2 separate regions of the Homo sapiens genome follow, and region 1 is linked to region 2. A link means that fine-mapping ties the variant in region 2 to the expression of a gene that starts in the linked region. Tissue or cell type: testis. Region 2 holds a variant in brackets; the other region holds the start of a gene. All regions are shown on one strand. Distances are between the middles of the regions.

Region 1 (8,103 bases), 33 kb after region 2:
AGAATCTTCCTGGACAGCAAAGACAAAAGGTTAAAAGTCAAGTCAGGTACTTTTGACAGCCAATGGATGTTAATGGGGGTGCTTTCAGCTTCCAAGGTAGATGAGTCCTTGAGAATTCCCAGGAGCCGAGATGTTCCTGAGAGGAGCAGCCAGGAGGGTGGATGAGGTCTCCAGCTGAATGTTTAAAGGAACAGTGGGCTGGGGAAAGGACCTGAGGAGGTCACTGGGGAGGAGAGAGGAGCAGGCGAGAGGAAAGAAAAGGAGTGGAGGGGAGGAACGGAGACAGAACAGAGAAGGGAGGAGGAGAGGGAGGAGGAGGGGAAGGGAAGGGGGAGGAGAAGATGGTGGAGAGGGAGGAGGAGGGGGGAAGAAGAGGGGCAGGTGCCAAGGTGCGTGTGCCCTCCTTCCTCAGGCAAGGACTCAGTCCACAGAGGAACAACTGGCCTTGGGTTTGTCGTCCAGTGATGGCTTCTCCTCTACCCCAATTAGCCACACATTCCTGGGTTTCAATCACTCAGTCACCTCATCCACTACCATGAGTCCCACCTCTATATAGCTAAGCATTCTCCACAGCCCCACTCGGACCCCACAGGTCCTTCCACCCATTCTGTGTCCGAGCTCCTCCCTTCTAGGGCAGGTCTTACTCCATTTCTCCTGGCCAGAAAGGGACCATATTTTCTGAAACAAAGCGCTGAGGAGTGAGAGTTACTTATGGAGATCAACTTACTCACTTGCTGTTACCCACTGGATCAAAGAAAAAAGCGGAATCTTTCTAAGGGAATACAGAGGTCAGGGATGAAGTTTCTATCTTTAAAGACCGGGTAAGCGAAGATGCCATTAGCATCCTATTTCTTGACTCAATTATTCCATCAGGCAGGCAAAACTTTTCATGTATGATGTCATCATGTGTTGGGAGGTACAGAGAATCCTTAAAATCTGGTGGTGGCAGGGAAGGTGGTACAATCATTTAAGAGGATCATTTGGCAGCATCAAGTTACAACAGGCAGGAAGAACAAAAAACAAAAGCAGGCCCTCTGCTCAAGCAGTCCAAGTCTTTGCAGGTACTCTACATGTCCAGAGTGAGACACAGATGGGCAGCATTATCTTAGAGAAAACCGGGAACATTCTTAACTGAATAATGTAACCATGCCATGGAATATTATATGTCTGTCAAAATGTAGGTAGACTGGGCACTGTGTAATGTGCTTATAATTCCAGCAATTTGGGAGGCCGAGACAGGAGGATGGCTTGAGCCCAGGAGTTCAAGATCAACATAGGCAACATAATGAGACCCCCACTGCTATTAAAAAAAAAAAAAAGAGAGAGAGAGAAAGAGAAAGAGAGAAAAAAAATGTAGGTAAATCAAAAACAAAAAACAAATGTATGTGGATCTGTTCCTTGTTCTGGCATGGAAAGAATTTCAAGGCATATTGTTGGGCAAATAAGCAAGCTGCAGAACAGTATGATAGCATTTATGTAAAAACAGAGCAAGGAACAAACTTAGTATGTAAATGCAAAGGAAAACATCTGTCAGGGTACCCCCCCAAACTCAGATGGGAGGGAGGAGGGATGCTAGTTGTTTCTGTAAAGCTGTCACTCTGATAAGAATAAGTGACTATTTAAAATCTTTTTAAGATTTTAAGATCGGTGGTCTATGTAAAGCCAATTATACTTGATCTTTATTTATTGTTTTTCAAATTATCCATCAGTAACAATCTGAAAAATATAGACTTCACACAGCTAACCCAGGTTAAAGAAACTTGAGGAGCTGTATCTAGTGTAGTTGGAAATGAAAATCTGGAAATTTAGGATGAATAGTTGTAACATTGTTAAGGATAAGAGCCCCTTTGAAAATCTGTTGAAAGCTACAGACCTTGTGCCCAGGAAAATTACACACTACTCCCAATGCTGCATACAATTTCAGAGAACAAAGGGACCCCCAGAAGCCCATCCATGAATCATGGAGCCTAAGTTAAGAACCTCTGATTCAGACAACAGTTAAAGCCACTAAAACAGATGTGACCATGCAGAGAACATGTGTTGGGACTAGCGGAGATGGATTATAGAGCCCAAGGAAACCCCAACAGTGAAAGAGCAGGCAGAGGAGCTGGCAGACAAGGAAGATCTGGGCAGTTGTGAGACAGCCAAGCAAGGGGCAAAGACAAGAGATGAGCTGTTGAGTGAGGCCTGTTCGAAAGAGGGGAGATGGCAGCATGAGCTGCTCCCTGTCTTCTGCCCTCTCTGCCGTCTCTATACTGCTGTCACATTGATTCTCTGAGAGCTCCACCAATGCAAATAGTTTCATTTACCTTCAGCGAGTGGTGGGCAGTGAGTCCACAAACGGGACCAGGTCCCATCATCTGGTCCCAGTCTCATCCTCTGAACTTGTCTCCACTTAGCTCCAAACACACTGGGCCATGGGGCATTTCTCAAACACATCTTTTCCTTTGATGCCTTCATATCCTTTGATTGCCATTTCCTTTATTTAGCACAATGCCTGGCATATTCATAAGGTCCTCAAAAATGGTCAGCGTTTCTTCTTTCCTTCCCAACTCATGGAGATTGTCACTTAATAAAAACATCAATTTGGAGACTCCTCTATGACTAGCCCAGTCCAGATCACCAGTCCCTTCCCATCCCTGCCCTTTATCTGTGGACTTGCTCCCTAAGATACCTAGTGCAGTAGCTTAAATGTTTGCTAGCTGGCTGACTGAGATAGCCCTGAGGGTCTCAGAAAGCACTGTCTTCCTAGCTAGACTCTGATCTACCAGGGAAGCCTGTAGAAGTGGACACTTAGGAGCTATGTCTGCCAGTGTACATAATATGTGCATAGCTTACCCCACAAAATGAAATAAAGCAACAGTCATGAGTCACTTAACAACAGGGATACATTCTGAGAAATGTGTCATTTGGCAATTTGGTCCTTGTGTGAGCATCATAGGGCAAACTTACACAAACCTACATCGTAAGGTGTACTATGCACCTAGGCAATATGGTACAGCCTGTTGCTCTTAGGCTACAAACCTGTACAGCATGTTACAGTATGAATACTGTAGGCAACTAACACAATGATAAGTATTTGTGCATGGGACCACTGTCATATAACGTGGTCCTCCGCTGTCATTTTGTGGTGCATGACTTGTATACTAAAGGTTTTGAGACCTCAGCTTTTGCAATGGATATCCCGCAGAAAATTATAGATTACAAACTGCAGACTCATGGGGGTCACACAAATAATCACAACCGCAAATACCAAATGTCACCAACTACAGGGACACAGTTTAAGCCCTACTGGCTCACAGAAACACCAGTGAAGCATTAAGTCCACCTCTGACCCATGTCTACAAAGTAGTGTACTTGGGCACCAAATGCACCACTATTTTTTTTTTTTTTAAAGCTTCGTTCAGGGCAGCCCCACACAGGTTCAGCCACCCTCAACATTGCCTCCAGGAGGCTCTGCCCACCCTTTCCTGACAAGGGGGAAAGGAATGCTGCAGGACCTTGAACCCCTAGGTCAATCAGCCTGGCCTTCCCAGGGATGGTTCCCTGCTTACTCTATTCATGAGCTCAAAGTGCTGGGTAGTCAGCTGGCAATGAAAAGGCCTGGTCCCGGAAATGACCACTGCCCCAAAGCCTAGAAAGACAGCAGGCGGGGTTCAAATTCAGCTTGCTTCATTCAGGCCCACTGTACTGAGCCAAATCACCCCAGGGCATGGCTCAGGCCTCATCTGGAGGAGGCACGAAATCCATGATCCCGGCCCCTTAGCACCGTCCCCTCCCCACCCCTACCACTGAACACACACCTGTAAAGCTCTTTGGGAACTGTTCTGAATGGCTATCACAGCCACTAGATCCAAGACCCTCTGAATGATGGGTAACAGTCAAAGAAGAATTTTAACAACTAAAGCGATGACCTTGAGCCTAATTTCTTTCTTTGTAAAATGAAAGTGTTGGACTGTCATTCCCAAATTTCAGTACTAGTAAAATTATCAAAACAAAAAACAAAAAAATAATGAATTACTGAGGTTTTAGTTTGCCAAGTGAGAATTTTTTCTCAAAAATTACAAACTATATGTGTCGCCATCATTTCCTAAAAGGAATAACATTTAAATCAAAAAAGTTGAAAAGAGGTAATATCAAAATAAGCGCAGCCACCCCAAGGCAGGCCGGTAGGCAATGGCCCCGACCAAGGAGATCCCGGAGCGGCTCTCCGGCTGTCAGCAAAGGGTCTGCATCTGCCCGGATCCTGACATTCTGGGTACGTCTCAACGACGCGGCAAACAAGCGTCCACTCCCAACGCGAGCAAGTTTAAAACCCAGGAACATCGATACCAGGCGCCGGAGCGAAGCATTTCCAGGCCTCCGCGGGTTGCCCCGGGCCGCGGCGAGGACCCGCACCCCGGTTCCCCAGCCGCTCGCCGGGCCCTCGCTCCCGCCGCGCCCCGGGCACCTCCGGGCCTCGCGCCCTCCCCGGATCCCCTAGGCCCGCGTACCCGGACCCCCGCATCCCGGGGGACCGCTGTCCTCCGCCGGCGCCCCCGCCCGCCCCCCACGCCCGCGCGGCCGGTCCGCCCAAGGTCGGCGCGAGCGGGCCGTGGGCCTGGTGGGCCTGGCGGGCGGGGGCGCCCCTGGCCGGGTCCGGGCCGCATCCCAGACCAGAGCCCGCAGGCCAGAGCCGCTCCGGGTCCCGCTCCCGTTCCTGCCGGCAGCCGCGGGGGCGCAGGGCCTGCGAGGCGGCACTCACCCGGGCGACGCCATGAGCGCAGCGAGGTCTCCGCTCCCGCCTCCTTCGCTTCCTCCGCGCGGCCGCGGCTCGGCGCCGGGGAGGGGCCTGGCCCGCCGGCCGCCCGCCCGCTCCGGGACGCGCTCCAGGGGTGGAGGTGGGGTGAGGTGGGGTAAGGTGGGCCCGGGGTCCTCTCGGAGCAGCCCGGGGACAGCTGGGGCGGGGTGGGGGCGGGGCGGCCCAGGTCAGCCCGCAGCCCGCCCAACGCCCACCTGCCCAGGTGCCTGGAGGCCGGAACTCGCCGGGCGGTGCCTGCGGTGCCAAAAGCTGTAGGATAACCTGCCCCAGGGCCTTACTGAACTTCACACCTTTCTGTAATTGGAGTTTAATTTCTGTAAGAAAAGGCTTTTCTTTAGCCCTGAAGCGTAAGGCCTTATTATTAAGCAAAACAATAACTTTCCTACTTCTTACTTGCAGTGCTGTGTTGGACGAGTTGCTGGCCTCTCTGAGACGGTACCCATTGTAAAATGTGTATAAAGTGGCCTTGTGAAGCTCTAGGCAATGCGAAGCACTTTTATTATTCTTTATAGTGTGTTATTAAGAAAAATAATGAATCTGCAGTTCCTCCAGTGAGGTTTCACAACTATTCTTACAAGTTATGAGTCCTTAGGCAGGTAGATTTTTCAGCTTCAGTTCTTCTCTCTGCAAAATGAGTTTCCAAAAATGATCTAAGTGAAAATGCTTAATAAAAAGCTCTGGACAATGTAAACCATTGTTGATAACATTTTTAGTATTATATTAAATATCACTGGCCGAACGCAGTGGCTCACGTCTGTAATCCCACCACTTTGGGAGGCCGAGGCAGGAGGATCGATTGAGCCCAGGAGTTTGAGATCAGCCTGGGCAACATATTGAGATGACCCCCTGCCCGCCCCGCCCGTTTCATTTTTAAAAATAAAATTAAAGTTAAAAGTAAAATATCATTAACAACCACTATTTAAAAATGTTTACTACTATTAAGAATACAAGACAGCAAAGCAGTGATTAAAACCTTAGCTCTGAAGCCAGAATACCTGTGTTGGAATCTGGGCTCCACCAATTACCAGCCCCAGGAGCCCCTGCAAGATAGAACCTTTCCAGGGCCACAGTTCCTTATTTGAAAAATAAGGCTAAAAATAAGTCCCTTCCTCTCTGTGAAGATTAAATGAATTAATATTTGTAAACATTTGTAACTATTTTTAAATGTTAGTAAACATTGCGTGATGCATGGTCTCTTTTCCTCCTGGGAGAATCCAGTCAATGTTTCTGAGCCTCCTTGTCCTCTTCGGTAAAGAAATTCATAACTGCTACCTTGAGTTCAGAAGATAATTAATGCTCTGTAAATGGGAGCTGATAGGTAAAGCCACGCGAACTTGTGACACCCAAAATAAGGACAAATCCAGGAGGACCAGAGTTAGGAAGAGTTTGAGGAATGGGAAATCCTAAATCCTAAATGCCTGATTCAAGGGAGTAATGAAATGAAGGAGATCAAACTAAAAGAATTTTTTCTTTGTTTGTTTGAGACAGGGTCTTGCCCTGTCACCCAGGCCAGAGTGCAATGGCGAGATCTTGGCTCACTGCAACCTCCACTTCCCGGGTTCAAGCAATTCTGCCTCAGCCTCCCAGTAGCTGGGACTACAGGCGCCCACTACCACACCTGGCTAATTCTTCTATTTTTAGTAGAGACAGGGTTTCCCCATGTTGGTCAGGCTGGTCTCAAACTCCCAACCTCAGGTGATCTGCCTGCCTCAGCCTCCCAAAGTGCTGGGGTTACAGGCGTGAGCCACCATGCCTGGCCTAAATAAGCATTCTTTTAAACATAAGGAATACATGTTTACTGACATAAAATCTGGTTCAGAAACCAATAACCCCAAAATATGGCACTTTAACAAGCTGAACTGAAGAAGTCTCAAGGTCTCTCTGATCTCCCTCCCCACTGGTTTCTCCCAAAACAGAAAATGTCTTTATCTGCTTAAAGTCCAGACCCTCCAAGGAGAACAACTGTTTTTCTTGCCCTCCCTGTAAGACCAAGAATGTAACCACACCTGAAAAGACCCTTTCATAGGATAGCGTACAAGTTAATCTCTGTGCCCTGATCCATTCCTTCTCCCTAGTAATCCTTTATTGCCCCTTGAAAGAATTCCTCTTTCTCCCCTCCTGTAAGTTGTTTTGCCAAGATGGTCTACAAGCTTCTGAACCTTGTTGGGTGGTGGGAAATCATTCTGTAATTCTCCCTGTGCACACATTCATAAAATTTGTATGCCTTTTCTTCAATTAATCTGCTTTTTGTGAGTTGATTTTTCAGTAAATCTTCAGAGGGCAAGGAGAAACTTTCCCGTGGCCCGTACACTTAACATGAATTTTAGCATCCCACTATATGGTTAGACCATCATGTTTAACCAACCCCTACTGTTGGACATAAATATTGCTACCAGTATTTCATTATTATAAGGAATGTGAGTAATAAATATCCTTATAGCCAAAACATCCCATAAACATCAATGATTATTTCCTTATGCCAAATTTTGAAGAGTTGAATTTCTAGATCAATAGGATATCAGTATTTTAAGGCTCTTCTGAAACATATATACTCTGTGTATGTGTATGTGTATACCTACACACATACACAAACACACTAATATACATATACTTAAATACATAATACACATACACACATATGTATACATATACCTACACACATATATACAGACACACAAATATACACATACACAACATATACACACATATATACAGATTGCCTTCCCAGCACAATCACCTGATAGTCCTAGTTTTCCAAAACACTGTGTAACTTTTACAATTTTTCAAAATCATTGCCAACTTCATAGGTTAAAAACCAGTATTTTAGGCCAGGTACGGTGGCTCATGCCTGTAATCCCAGCACTTTGGGAGGCCGAGGCGGGTGGATCACTTGAGGTCAGAAGTTTGAGACAGCCTGGCCAACATGGTGAAACTCCATCTCTACTAAAAATACAAAAATTAGCTGGGTGTGGTGGCGTGTGCCTGTAGTCCCAGCTACTAAGGAGGCTGAGGCAGGAGAATTGCTTGAACCCAGGAGGTGGAGGCTGCAGTGACTGCAGCCACTGCACTCTAGCCTGGGTGACAGACTATCTCAAAAATAAAAATAAAAAATAATTTAAAAAATAATAATAATAAATAAAATTGGCCAGTGCTGTGCCTCACGCCTGTAATCCCAGCACTTTGGGAGGCTGAGATGGGTGGATCACTTGAGGCCAGGAGTTCAAGACCAGCCTGGCCAACATGGAGAAACCCTGTTCTCTACTAAAAATACAAAATTAGCCGGGCGTGGTGGCACATGCCTG
Region 2 (8,103 bases):
CACTCCTTTCCTTGACTCTGAGCTATTTTACAGCTCTGTAAATTACAGATAACTGACAGGAATGCAAAATAATTCTTGTCTGTAGACATGCAAATAATTTCTGTTCAGTGGAGGATCAATTGAGTCCCTGCCTGCCATGGAAAAAGTCAGTTTTGCATCCATCTTCAAATTTGTTTCAACATCCTGATCTATATATATCTCTGCTTTTTTATGTCTCCCTTGAGTTGGTTTCATAGATTTCTGACCCTAGCATTATTTCCTGAGTTAAAGAAAACCTGTGACACGTGTTCATTTTGTTTACATGACAGTCGGATTGAGTGCTCCTTTTGGAGGCCTGGGGTCCGCTCACCTGTGTGCAGCGACAGCCAGCCTTTACGGTGGGCGATGTAGTGCGGCGCGTGTGCCTCCTCGTAGGTCACCGGCTTGTCCCCCTTGCTTACGCGTACTCGGGCCGCCCGGTTCTAGGAGCAAAAGGGGCCGTGACTCCACGAGATCCCCGATCCAGACCCCTACTTCGCGCCATGTCCCCCCAGTCAGCTGGCACTGTTCCCCGGCCCCAATCCCCTGATCCCTAAGCCCCGACCCTAGCCCCGCCTCGGACCCCAGCGACACGCCCCCTTCAGCCCGCACGGCTTCCCCGGCCCCCGGCCCCCCGGCCCCCAGGCCCCCAGGCCCCTGCCCCGGCGGTGCTCACCTTGGCGCAGACCGGGGAGGTGTGCAGGGCGCGCCAAGCGCAAGGCAGCTCTCGGCTCCAGGACAGCACCTGTGGAGGGAGGGCGCGTGAGGCGGAAACTAGGGACCCCACCTCCGACTCGCAGGGACCTGCCGAGTCGCCCCACTCACCCGTGGCCCCAGCAACCCGCTGCACACGGAGGCCGCCATCTTGGGCCAAGCGGAGCGCGGGACGTACCACAGCGCGCTGAGGGGTGGGGACGACCGCGGACGAGACCAAGTCGGAGCTCGTACTCTGTACTCTGGCGGGGGCGGGGCAGGGCCTCTGCGGGGCGGGGCCGCGGTATGCTGCTAGCTGTTACTCCCGCCTTCCCCGCAGCCCTGTGAATGCTCAGCCTTGTGAATGCTCATCCCGCCGCTGTTCGCTCTCCCGCGGTTGCTGCTTGCATAGGGTTTCAGATCCGGAAATTTGAGGATGCGAAACGTGAGATTTTCTCTTCGACAACCTCACGCTAGTACGGGTGATGGGTGTGCGGCCCACCGGAGCCCGCCCTGCCCAACCTGCACCCTCGGGGCTCGAAGAGGAGCCAAGCGTTTCCCCAGGTCCTAGTTATGCCTCCAAATAATATTCGTAGAAAAACAAAACAGAAAAACCCTCCAGACTTTTATCCACAAATAAAGAAGAAACATATTTTGGTTAAAACGTCACCCAATTCTTCAAGGATGACTTACGCAGTTATGCAAGAATGGGTTTGCCACATGTGACCACAGTGGTGACTGGCCCCTGAGGAAGGAAAATTTTAAGTACGGGGAAGGGGCCGGAGGGCAAGGAGATTCGTGAGAATATCGCAGGGCCTGTAATGCTGAAACCAGTGCGTCGCCACTATTATTGGTATCCAGTAATTATTAATGTCAAACGGAAAAATAGCAACGCGGGATATTTTATTTTAGAAGTCACCACGGTCATGGAAAAAACACGGGCTCTGGAGTCAGACCCATGTATAACAATCTTTGTACAGTTAAGACTCAGTTCTATTATCTATAAAATGGGCCTTAATAATAGTACTACCTTATAGAGCTATTAGGATCAAGAGAATATTTAATCAATGATGGGTTGTGTTTGGTTGAGTGATGTGAAATTGCCAATGTTTTGGCCGTTCTGGGTCTACATCATTCCCCTTAATGGTACAGTACTTGCATACTGCTGCGGTTTCCTGTCAGGGGGAGGACTGGATTATGATCCATGGGAAGGGGAAATGGAAGAACGGTGGAAATGAGTTGCCCATGACCACACTGAGAAGAGGGAAAGAGGGACCAAGACACAAGTCTCTTGACTTCAGTCCAGCCCATTTCCCATGACCAAGATTCCTCTGATTACATGAAGGTGGGTTCTCAAAAAACCCGTAATAAAAGGACAAGGTCTTCCATGTCCACTTCACCAGAAATGTTTTATTCTTACTTTTTAGGAACTGCGGCCCCCAACTGTTATGCATATTGAATAAAGGGACAGAACAGGGATGAGGTGCCCTCCAATGCATACTTTGCAAATGTAAGAACTTTCAACATTTCCTAAGAAATCCTTTTCAACTGACAATTATTTTTTAAAGTTTTCATAATGTTCAATAATTTTATAATTGTTAAGTTTCATTAATTTGCTCCAAGGTGGTGAGGAACATGGGATGTGGCATCTGAATTGCCTGAGTCCAAATCGTGGACCCAATGCTTCCTGGCTGTGTAATTTGGACAAGTGACTGAACCTTCTGAGCCTCGGTTTCTCTCATCTGTAAACTGGGGACAATAATGGTGGTTGTGAGAAGTACAGTATGATGTGCCTGGCAGAGGGAGAGAGCAGTTGTGGGTTTTGTTGTTGTTTTTAACGAGTCCCTGATAGCCACATATCCCGTTAGGGAGATGAGCCAGCTATTGAGGGTTCTGTGAGAACTCATAGCAACACCACCCTAATCAGAGGAAAGGGGAAGGAGAAAGGGAAACAAGATCCTTGGGCTGATCAGAGGCAGAGGTGGCAATGGCACAACACCTATTGGGGCCCAAGGTGGGCAGGGGCCACACCACGAAGGCTGTGGTTGGGAATCAAGTTTAGCCCATAAAGCAGTAGGCAATCAAATGATCAAATTTATGCTTTCCTCTATTCAAGCCATTCTCCCTTATGCCTGAGATCTCTCTCTGGAATTCCAAACCGATCTAGATCTTTCCAAGCATCACAATGGCCATTTCAGTGGCAGACATTTCTGGGGTTCAAATATCTTGTTATCTATCCTTTATTAGCTTTGTTTATACTGTGATTGGGGGAAAGGGGACGTGTCGGTCTTTACATGATTAAAATTACTTAAAATGACTTTTATACATCAGTATGAATGTTATATTGTTTTAAATAATCAGCAGAAAAATCTGACTGGGGATGTTTTATTTTTCTGTAACTTCCATTTGTTGTTGTTTTGATGCACTTTCCTTCTCCTATTAATTCCATAAAGGAGGCAGTATTTCCAGGCTTCACAGAGCAGAAGATGGAGGCTCACAGACTCACCTGAGGTTACAGAAGTAGTAAATGGTAGCAGGCCTTTTTGCTCCAAAGCATGTGCTCTTTCAGTATCACTTCCTGGGGGTGAGGGTTCAGACCATGTTAGGATCAGGGAATGGCCTGGGTTTCTGTGGCTTGCTGCAGACAGCTCCCAAGTGGCCCTCAAGGACTGCCTGGACATGGAAAGGCCAGGAGCATATGACCCCATGTGAAAGACCCATCTGCACCCTTCCTGGAGCCTAATGCAGAGACAGGGATGTAAAACTGCTTTTTCTCTGACATGAGCCTTTGTTCTGTACATAATAACCAAGAACCAGAAGTTGCTCCTATGCTCTCAAAGCAGTGATTTGCAATTGCATGACAGAGCCCCCTGGGTTCCACACCACCTCTGTGGGGAGAGGGCAGGCACTCACACT[T/G]TTAAAATGCCCCTTAGATGATTTCAATTTGCAGTCGGGGCTGAGAACCAGTGTCCTGAACTCACTCAGTTTATTTGGGAGACTCCCAAAATGTGTATTTGCAGAGCCCCCTTTCGGGGAGAGTGCTGTTGGATGCCCCTGGAAGATTATGGCAGCTCTCTAAGGAACATAGCCATAGTCCACGCCCACCACTCTTGGTCACAAGGGCAGAAGAAGGGAGGAGGGGTCTGCTGGGAGGTCAGGACTTCTTTGAGATGATCTGTCCAGTTGGGTGCAGCACAGCCACCATGGGCTCACCCAGAGTGCTCAGGGGATACAGCACTGGCTGGGCCATGGAGAGACACTGTGTAAAAGGGAGCTGTCAGCCCCCTTGTACTTCCAGAGCCTGAAGAGTTTCAGAATCCAGCCTGGGGGCGGTGGGGTGACATCTCCCTTCCTGTTGGCTGCAGGGTGAGCCGATATCACTCCACTCATGGTGGTTCTCTTTACAGCTGACTTATCCTAACTCAGAACTGCTGACACTTTACACTTTGTAAACCTATGGTTTTTACATTATTCCTTGTGATTCTTTTTTTCCTAATAACTCGTTCACTAGGAAAAATCCCAGAGGCTCTCAGCTCTATTCTGAGAAATAGGTCAAACAACTGAAACCCTATGAGTAAAGCAGAGAGGCGTGTCAAACCAGATTGCCAAGACAGCTCAGCCGTTTTCCCTGTGAGCTCCTGCTCCATCCCCCCACCTCTGTTCTCCTTCTGGTGAGGCACAAGGGCTGGGTTTGGTGGGTGAGGTCCCCAGCTATAATTACTGACATCAGCTTTGCGGTCCCAAGGAATCCACTCCCCTGTTATCAGAGCTATGGGCAATTAGAAATGCCCAGTGCCACACCAGAACCCTGGGCTAAAAGTCAGAACCTGAAGAAGCCAAACTGGTGCTTAGGATAGAGGGGGTGCGGACTCAAGAAAGAGAAGACCGAGGGATGGGCTCATGAGCTCCAGCCCCTGAGACTGCCACTCCCTGGCTCCCAGAAACTGCTAGATCTAGATATAATGGGCTCAGATGAGGAGACAATGAAAATGTGCTAAGGACCAAGAAGGGCACAGAAAGGCCTCTGAACCCTTGGGTGGGCACAAATGGAGGTGCGACTGGCACCAGAGGCTGTTCTGAGAGATGTGCCCGCCAGTCAACCAGGGCCAGAGACAGGCAGAAGGGGCCCCCAGGCAGACAGCAGCATGGAAGAAACCATGGCCTCCAAAGTGTGTATGTGGCGGGGCGAGGGTGTGGTTGACGAAATGACAGGAGACCAGGACCAAGGTCATCTTGGCTCTTGTACAGCCCTGACTCATCAGTGCTCATAAAGCTGCACTCTGGTGAAATTTTGTTGGAGTCTTAGAAGAAATCAGGATAGGTTTATGGCCAAATTATTTTATTAGTGACTCAGAAAGAGGATTTTCCCTTTTACTGGGCTAATACACCACACCTGAGGAGTTGGGGTAGTTACCAGATCAGGTTTATATTGTATAAACTGCAGACCACCACCAGTTCTGCTAGGTGCTGTTTCAGTAAATTAAGATAGTATCGATGAGAAGATGCTGTTTTACATACCATTAAGAAGGAAAACTGGCTGCAAATTATCTTAAGGTACCATTGATTGATTAAAAGATGAATCCTGATCTGACATGTTAAAATGTTTGAGGCTGATGCAGAAGGCAGTTTCCTCTCCACAAACCTCATGGGTGTGCAGAATGGTGTAGACACAGAGATGGGTGCCTCACTTACCTCATGCACAGACTGGCTTTTCCACCACAGGGCAGGCACTGTATAAGCACCTTCCATTCCTACACAGGCGCTAGTAGGGGGAACTAAGGCTTGGAGAAGCCAAGTAACTTTGCTAAAGGGTCATATAATTAGTAGGAAGTAAGGCTGAGGTTCAAAACCAGGCCGGACATCCAATGTGCTGAAGCAAGCTACACCTCATCTCACAAGAGAGGCGAAGACACGCTTGTTCCTTGTCCCAAGCACTCTTCAGGCCCATTTCCTCCAAGATGGTACTTGCTTGGTTTGACACTTTCATCAAACAGGACCCCTTGTGAGCACACGGCCATGCTCTGGTGAGCAGCCTGCCGCCCTGTCCACCTTTCTGGGTGGCTCTCTCTCTACTAAGCTTGGCTCCAAGGACATGACCGTCCAGTAGCCCCATGGCAAATTCTGGGGCTTCTCAGACCTGAAGGTGAGCATTTTGAGCTCCAGATATGAAAGGCAAGTCCTGGGTGTTGTGTTCATTGGAATCCTAAGAGCAGCACTGACTGGAGGGCTAAAGGCAAGGCCCATCCACAGTTCACAGACTTGAAACATCAACCCTTCAAAAAGGGTGGGAGGAGGCTGGGTACGGTGGCTCACTCCTGTAATCCCAGCACTTTGGGAGGCTGAGGCAGGTGGATCACTTGAGGCCAGAAGTGTGAGACCAGCCTGGCCAACGTGGTGAAACCCTGTCTGTACTAAAAATACAAAAATTATTTGTATTTTTGTGATGGTGGGCGCCTGTAGTCCCAGCTACTTGGGAGGCTGAGAATCACTGGAACCCAGGAGGTGGAGGTTGCAGTGAGATCGCGCCACTGCATTCCAGCCCAGGCAACAGAGCAGGAAAATGAAAAAGGGAAAGGTTTTCCTAAACTTATTACTAAGAGACCAGGTTTGCAGAGAACCAGGCTCCTGGAACGCAGGAGGCAACAGTTTGGATGTCCCGGGAGCAGCAGGTGGAGCATCTGGGGAATCCAGAAATCCACAGCAGGCAGCCTGCCAGGCATCTCCAGAAGAGGGACCAGGAAGCCTTTTGTTCAAGAAAGGATTCCAGTCTAGAAGGCTGGTGAGCTCCCGAGAGCTAAAGGCTCCCTTGCTGTGTCTAGTGAAAGGAGGACAAGAAACATGGTAGGAGCTCTTGGGGAAGGGCCTGGTTTCTCTGAAGTCAAGAAACACAAAGAGAAAGAGGCTCCAAGGTCTAAGCAAGGCCCAGAGGATCAAGCAGAGCTTCCTAGAGCTGGTGAAAGGGCTCAGGTGGGGTTCTGAGGCCCAGTGAGGTGACACTGGCCTCTGGGAAGGGCCAGCACAGGCAAGGACTCCAGCGGGAAAACTGACAGGGCAGAACTACCAAGTCCTTGGCCAAGCCTCTGGTTCGAATGGTGGCAAGTGGGCTGTGGATGAGGTCGGGGAGGATGTAAGAGGAGGCGCTGGCACTGACATGGCTGCCCAGGGGTGAGCCCAGAAGCCATGGGAGTCTGGAGAGGATGAGAGGAAGAGATGCAGGGCTGGGCGTGACAGCACCACCCTTCATCCGCTCCAGCTCTGCCCATCCAGGTGTAAGCTCTGGGGCAGGGGATTACCTGCTCTAGGCTTCCTTTTCCTCAACTGTGAAATGGGGTGACAGTGGAAAGACCTCAGAGTTACTGTGAAGGTATTTAGTTTTAATCCCCAGTAACAGCCTGAAGAATGGCTCCTGCCTTAAAGAGAGGGAACAGGATGGCTTTTTTAAGTGGTGCATCTCTGTGCTATCTACCATTCCAGATACTGCCTGTACCGTACACCCTCCTCAGACAGATGCTGCTATCCTCTTTGAGAAACAGGAGAATTAAGGCACAGAGAGGCAGAACCTGCCCATTACCATCACTTGTGCACTCATTCATTTAACAGACATTTATTAAGCGTCTACAATGTGCCAGGCCCTGGGGACACAGAGCTGGAGAATGTACAGTCCCTGCCCTCAAGGAGCTCACAGTCTGGGGGGACAGACATGTAAACACATGAGTTACAACGCGCTGCGTGAAGTGTGTGGCAGAGGTATAACAAAGTGCTGTGGGGCACAACAGAGCGACCAGTGAACTCTTCCTGGGCAGGGGTCAGGGAAGCCTTCACAGATCAGTCAATAAATACGGTGCCATGGGAGTGCCTTGCACACCACGGGCACTCACATCTTGAATGCTGGTCCACTGGAGGCCCTTGGGTTGGGCGGGAGCAAGGCCTACTTCTGCTTCCTCAGGACAACTTCCCCACCTCTGTCCTGGGACCACCTGCCCGCCTGGGCCTGCAGTGACTAAGGACGCTGCTCCCACTCCAGGGGCCAGTGACAGAGAGCAGCTATACAGAGGGCCCACCCCGCAGGATCCTTGACAGGAGCTGAGACAGAACAAACTGCTGCTTGTCTCCCTACCCTGGGGGCTGTGATATTCTTGGTAACATCTCTGAGCTGGTCTGTGAGGTCACTTCCTCTTTTAACACTGTTGAGGAGACTCCAAACCCTGTCTTTTCCTCGTCTTCTCATGTCGATTGGGCACCAGCCATTCTCAGGCACCAGAGCACAGCCCCACACGGGTGCCCCATCAGACAGGGCTGCCCACAGCAGCCTCCTACACCTGAACTGGGTTTCTCTGCACACTCACAGCCGTCTCACCAGCTCAATGAGCTGCTGGATGTTTTTGTTTTGGT

Which allele goes with the higher level. Alleles are on the strand shown, and positions count from the first base shown. SD is a standard deviation of normalised expression in the study named.
In carriers of allele G in region 2, the expression in testis of the gene that starts at base 4,779 in region 1 tends to be lower than with T alone (small effect, 0.17 SD a copy in GTEx).

Evidence for each region. PIP is the estimated chance that this variant, and not a neighbour inherited with it, causes the effect.
Region 1: it holds the start of URGCP, and the variant in region 2 is fine-mapped to the expression of URGCP in testis (GTEx, PIP 0.94).

Annotation. Positions count from the first base shown.
Region 1 is chr7:43,901,818-43,909,920 of GRCh38, forward strand. URGCP (upregulator of cell proliferation) reads right to left here and starts at 4,779. Exons shown (of 6, transcript NM_001077663.3): 1 at 4,745-4,779. The coding sequence starts at 4,758. It overlaps URGCP-MRPS24 (URGCP-MRPS24 readthrough), which reads right to left and starts at 4,779. Exons shown (of 7, transcript NM_001204871.2): 1 at 4,745-4,779. The coding sequence starts at 4,758. RefSeq lists silencers at 4,555-4,984, 5,045-5,204.
Region 2 is chr7:43,868,614-43,876,716 of GRCh38, forward strand. It overlaps URGCP-MRPS24 (URGCP-MRPS24 readthrough), which reads right to left. Exons shown (of 7, transcript NM_001204871.2): 5 at 695-763; 6 at 350-461. The coding sequence ends at 373. MRPS24 (mitochondrial ribosomal protein S24) reads right to left here and starts at 904. Exons shown (of 4, transcript NM_032014.3): 1 at 844-904; 2 at 695-763; 3 at 350-461. The coding sequence starts at 882. URGCP (upregulator of cell proliferation) reads right to left here. Exons shown (of 6, transcript NM_001077663.3): 6 at 7,300-8,103. The coding sequence ends at 8,054. LOC124901620 (a long non-coding RNA gene) reads left to right here and starts at 1,033. Exons shown (of 2, transcript XR_007060296.1): 1 at 1,033-2,221; 2 at 2,335-3,029. RefSeq lists silencers at 616-675, 976-1,035, 3,303-3,478 and an enhancer at 1,266-1,385. The variant T/G (reference allele first, on the strand shown) is at 3,628.